Linked DNA regions of Homo sapiens: region 1 is linked to region 2. The links come from fine-mapping of genetic effects on gene expression. A gene starts in region 2. The other region holds a variant in brackets. All regions are shown on one strand. Distances are from middle to middle. Region 1 overlaps RABGAP1L (RAB GTPase activating protein 1 like). Region 2 holds the start of SERPINC1 (serpin family C member 1).

What was found. PIP is the estimated chance that this variant, and not a neighbour inherited with it, causes the effect. A credible set is the group of variants that fine-mapping cannot tell apart.
Region 1: its variant is the best candidate, but not a certain one, in a credible set for the expression of SERPINC1 in esophagus mucosa (GTEx, PIP 0.88).

The regions. Positions count from the first base shown.
Region 1 is chr1:174,247,041-174,249,953 of GRCh38, forward strand. The region is part of intron 5 of RABGAP1L (RAB GTPase activating protein 1 like); the gene reads left to right. Among named protein-coding and RNA genes, the nearest start is that of RABGAP1L, 89 kb to the left of the region's middle. The variant T/A (reference allele first, on the strand shown) is at 1,380.
Region 2 is chr1:173,916,039-173,918,951 of GRCh38, forward strand. It overlaps SERPINC1 (serpin family C member 1), which reads right to left and starts at 1,289. Exons shown (of 7, transcript NM_000488.4): 1 at 1,181-1,289. The coding sequence starts at 1,221. It overlaps LOC124904457 (a long non-coding RNA gene), which reads left to right and starts at 462. Exons shown (of 2, transcript XR_007066739.1): 1 at 462-902.

The sequences.
Region 1 (2,913 bases), 330 kb after region 2:
ATCATTCTGTATCACTCTGGCTCAGCTCCATACGCTTAACCTTTCTATAAAGAATTTTTTGAAGCCTTGCCAGATGCTTTAGAATTTGCCAAGTTCTTTGACTTTTTTTGATATGGCCTTCTGATGTGACAAGCTGGCTGATCTGACATAAAGAATGTGAAAAAGAAGAGATGAGAAAGGGGAAAAAAGAATAAATATGGCTGGGGTTTAACTACCAATGTATGCAAAATTACATACAGGTGTTCTCCTGTTTTCACATACAGTGCTTTCTTAAAAATACGCTTAAGTCCGGGAGTAGCCAGAAAGAGTCATGGCCCAAAACCCCCTAACAGCAGTTAGTGTGGCATCTCCACAGTGGGGAATGTTGTAGGAGTTATTAAGAAATTATTTTAGGCATATAGAGATGAAAAGGGATCCTTGGGAAATTTTCATTTTTTAAAGCATCTCTGGAAAAGTTTCTTGTAAAGCCCCAGCTCTTAGAGCCAGGCCAGCAACCTATAATATACAAATGGTAGCCATTAGAAACCGGGTCCACCCAACATGGCAATTCCCAGGGCCTTCTTGCCCTTGCCCCACATGTTCCTGGCAACATGGCTGCCCACACATATCCTTGCGTGTGGAGAGCATCATGGTGCCCTGCATTTGCATATGAAAAGCTAGGGTGGGAGGGCCAGCTTTTTCCACCTGCTACGTGAATTGCATGCCTAGTCAAACCCATCCCATGAGCCCTATGCAAATCAGACATCACGTCCTCCAGCCTCTGCATATATACCTGGTTAGTATGCATGGCAGGTGGTGTTCTGTCTCTTGGCTTTGGAGCCCCTCTCCCTCTGTCTCTGTATGGGGAGCCGCTTTTTTTTTGCCCTTGTTTCTTGCCTATTAAACTCCCTGCTCCTTAAAACAAAACTAAATATACACTGAAGTTAAATGTATAAAAATCAGACAGTAGACTTTATATTTCATTTAGGAGTAGGAAGTGGAGAATACCCAGAGAACTAAAAGTAGTTTAAAGTCTCTATTTACACTTGACCTTGTAGGCATAGTCTTCAATGACATATTTCTAGCATATTCTTTGGTTCTGTTTTCCTCTATAAACACTTGAATTATTGGGCTAAATCCAGTAACTATCCAGCTGAGGCTGAACCTTTCTGTTTTTAGCTTATCTAATGATTCCCTCTCATCCATCCCCAAGCACATTCAACTTAATATTTGCTGGAGTACAGGCTGTATGTTCTCTCTTGTATTTCTGGCACCTAGACTAATACTTGGTATGCAGAAGGTGCTCAAATAATATTTGTTGAATGAATGAGTTTATTGTCTTAATTATATAAGTTTTGAGGCCTACAGTTCTTATTAGCATCAATCTTTTGCTGCTTTTT[T/A]AATTTTTACTCATATAAGATTAAAATGGGGATAGCATGGTAAAATAATGAAGAAATTTTGGGAACATTATGATATAAATATGGTGCTACTGCAGAAGTTGAACTTTAGACTGGCAGGTAGGATTTCTGTATAGTTGTTAAAAGTTAAAACTGTTAATTTGGCATTGAGAAGGCACTTTAGGGTAATCATTGGTTAATGGGTATAAATGTGGCATTCGGAAGTTTTTGAATGTGTTAGACTGTGTGTGCTTGTACAAGAAAAAGTGGCAGAATATGTGAATAAAACAAAGGAAAACAGAAGACCTCATACTTTAACAGACTCTTCTGTTATAGGGAGTATTCCTGTTTCAAGCAAGTTACAAATATTGTATTCCTAGACTAATACAGTTCAAGAAGTACTTTGAATTCACTTTATCTAAAGTGAGGGATTTATTAATGTTCACAGCATTCTTCTTATCTGTACTTCCCAATGTGACACATTGAAAATATTTTTTTAACCCTTCACATTTCACCTTGTTTTCTTTGTCAACCTATGCGTGGGCTGAGAGATTTGGAGAATCTTTGGTGCTTCAAGCTCACAAGTTTGTGATGATCTGATGCTTCTTTTGGAACCAAGAAGTAGAATAACTTCTGGAGAAGTGTTGGATTTAGAGTACTTCTTCACTTTAAGGAAAGAATATGAGCTATACACACAAATACACACACATATGTATATACATATATATGTATATATGTATGTATAAAAGTAGTCACTAGAGTGGCCTAATACCAATAGAATAGATAAGAATAAGACCATTTCAGCATTCATTCTGGGAACCCAACACTTATAGCACAACAACATTGAGTAAAAATACTGGTAGCTCTTTATGTTACTGACTGTATTGCTAAAGCCAGTATTTGCCTTATTCTATGGTTCTGTATCTAGCCCCTGAGGCTGAGGGAAGTGAAGAGAGAACTTGGAGACTTGGCCAAAACCTTGTTTGTGAGAGTGTGTTGGGAAGATTCAGATACCAATATCATTTTAGTAAATTATCTTAGGATACATTCAATTTCTTGTATATTTTGAAGCCTAGAAATATCTATAAATAAATACAGTTTATTTTGTGAACTTAAATTAGTTCAATATCTTTATCACCATGTTTAAATGTCAGAGTTGTGAGAAGCAAATATTTGAAAGATAGCTTTTTTTTTTTTTAAAGTAAAAGGAATTCCTTCTTTCTTTCTTTCTTTCTTTTTTTTTTTTGGAGACAGAGTCTTGCTCTGTCACCCAGGCTGGAGTGCGGTGGTGCAATGGCTCACTGCAACCTCCACCTGCCAGGTTCAAGCAATTCTCCTGCTTCAGCCTCCCGAGTAGCTAGGATTACAGGTGTGCACCACCATGCCCTGCTAATTTTTTGTATTTTTAGTAGAGATGGGGTTTCACCATGCTGGCCAGTCTGGTCTTGAACTCCTGACCTTGTGATCTGCCTGCCTTGGCCTCCCAAAGTGCTGGGATTACAGGCATGGAGCCACTGTGCCCGGCCCTCTTGCCCTT
Region 2 (2,913 bases):
TGCTTTAGTTCAGGCTCTCATCCCTTTTTATTGCCTGGAATTTTTAATAGTCGCCAACATGGATTCAATGAAGGTAAATGAAGCTAATTTCACATTTTAAAAAAATGAGGTAGTTGGGACACTCGATGAAGCAAATCAAGAGATAAAGTCTCTTGTAATATTTTTTGTAGATAAGACAGGGTGGGGCAGGGGCTGCCTCCAGCTGGTTTATGGTTCCTGCGTGTACACAAGGGGGTCTGTGTGTGGGTACTGGATCTTCCCATCTTCTCCTGGGAGAGAAAGACAGGCACCCAGTGCAGATTCACGGACGTGGTCCGTTGGGCAAGCCTGGGGCTGGCTGGAAGCTGGGGCAGCTGAGGGGGACTTGCCTTCTTGCGTGGTCTGAGTCCAGTTCTGCAGCCCTTTCAAGAACAGAGGTGCAAAGCCGGAGAGAAGCAGCGGCACCAAGGGAGATGTGGAAGGCAGGCTGAAGAAGCAGAGAGAGAGAGGAGAGGACCCTGCCATTCATCTTCCCATCTCCACTGCCTTCGGTTGCCCACTCTGTCCTTCAACTACATTTGGAAATGCAATTTGAGGCTGAGAGGACCCTGGGAGGGCTATGAAGCACAAATTAAAACCAAGACAGTTGTGCCACCACCCCGTTTCTAGCCTCCTGTGACAACTCAGATGAAGAAGGGAGTGTGTGTGGCATTGAGGGAGGGACAACTCTCATTGTGAGAAAAGGAAGCAGTTTTGGCCCTTTAGTCAAAGGTCACTGGGATTTGGGTGGGGGTGGAGTGGGGTGGATCTGAGTGGAAGAAAGAGCAAAAAGGGAGTGAGGAGGTCCTCATGGGTAGCATTTGCTCTCTTCCCGGATGGATGGCAGGCCCTGGGGATTCCCCTTGGAGCGTCCCCTGGATCCCGTGAGTGCTGACTTCCTGCACAGCATCTTTACACCAGGGATGACATCCCCCTTGTTTCTTAGGCTAGGGACCCAAGGGGTAGCTTAGGAAAGGCCTTACCCCAAGAGGTGGGGTGGGAGGGAGAGCACTTGAAATGACGTCTTCCAAACAGGTCTTTGACTGTAACTACCAGGGAGAGGGCCTGGTCTTCTCAAAGGTGTTGGAGGTCATTCCTGTGAGTCCTTTGGAGGTCACAAAACCCAGTAGGGGCAGGCAAGGGGAAAGCTCACCCCTCTTACCTTTTTCCAGAGGTTACAGTTCCTATCACATTGGAATACATGGCCGCTAATCTTCCACAGGGCTGGGCAAGTGGAGATAGTGTGATCTGAGGCAATCCGCCTGAAAACTGGTTCTTTCCTCTAAATCTCGCAGAGGTTCCAGAGGACAGGGTGGGGCAGAGAGCTGGTCAGGAGGGGGAACTGAGGTCAAAGGCTGATGACCAGTTCCCAGGGTTAAGCAAAGTGTAGAGCCCAGTGTTGTTTAATTAGTAGAGAAGTTTTAAAGTTCAATCAGGCCCAGGGAAAGCCTGAGCCACCTCTCTTGCCCACACTCCCTCACTCTTCTCCTCAGCTTTATAGAAAAGGAAAAGGAGAGTATGTTCATACCCTCAAACTTGGTTAGGAAACTAACCAAGGAAACAAACTTGGTTCATACCCACCCTCTCTCATAGTTTTCTTTATGGAGAGAGGGAGAGAGAGAGAGAAATATCTAATTAGAGAAGGCAAAGAGGGACAAGCTGCTACCTTCAGGCATCTGAGTGCCAAGGTGTCCCTGGCACAGACAAGGAAAACACAATGGTTACACCTGTGGCCCACAGAGAGACCCATTCCCCAGCAGCCCTGAAGTGGTGGGACAGGGAGAGAAGAGCAGGGCCTCGGGGTGCATGCCAAGCGCGTTTCTAAGGGGTGTGAGCAGCTGGGAAATACTTAGCAAAACTCTACTGGGGGATCAGGAGACAGAATGCGGGGCAGGTGAAAAACCCACGTACAACTGCTGAAATAAAAACAAACTAAATTATATTTATGTGTATCGTTATTTTTATTAGTTATTGGGGAGATTGGGTAAATTCAAACTAGTGGAGATAAAGGGCAGGTTTGTTTACATTTCCCTCTTCTGAAATAGCCAAAAGCACCATCACAAGGACTGCAGCCACCAAGTTCACAGGGCGCATGTGCCTCCTGCTGTGTGATCAAGGACTCCTTGTAGTTGTTGTTGCAGTCATAGGCATTTTCGAGAGCTCTTCGTTCATGAGAGAGGACATCTCTCCTGAACTGAAGCTGTGTCTAAGTTCTTGGCTGATTCAGACCCTGGATCCTTTGAAGCCCTCCATGTGCAGTGTGAACAGTAGCCGAGAACTGTCCCAAAGGGCCCCAGAATGCCCAGAGGCTCATCTGTCACCCTAGATTAAAGACTATTGAAAAGTCTCCTGTTCAACCACTTGAGTTCAACAAATACACGAGTGCTGCTTGTGCCAGCAGACACTGTTCTTGGGGCTGGGATTCCATTCGGGGGAGACATACAGCAATCACATAAAGAATCAGTATTTTAGGCCAAGCGTGGTGGCTCACACCTGTAATCCCAGCACTTTGGTAGGCTGAGGCAGGTGGATCACCTGAGGTCAGGAGTTCGAGACCGGCCTAGCCAACCTGGTGAAACCCCATCTCTACTAAAAATACAAAAAATAGCTGGGCATGGTGGTGGGCACCTGTAATTCCAGCTACTCAGGAGGCTGAGGCAGGAGAATCACTTGACCCCAGGAGGCAGAGGTTGCAGTGAGCCGAGATCGTGCTATTGCACTCCAGCCTGGGTGACAGAGCAAGACTCCATCTCAAAAAAAAAAAATCAGTATTTAAAAAATAAATATGTAACGTGCCAGTCAGATGTTAATAAGGTCCATAGAGAAAACTATAGCAGGGCAAGGATATAGGAAGCAGTGGGAGGAAGTGGGGAGGGCACCATCTGAGAACACTTG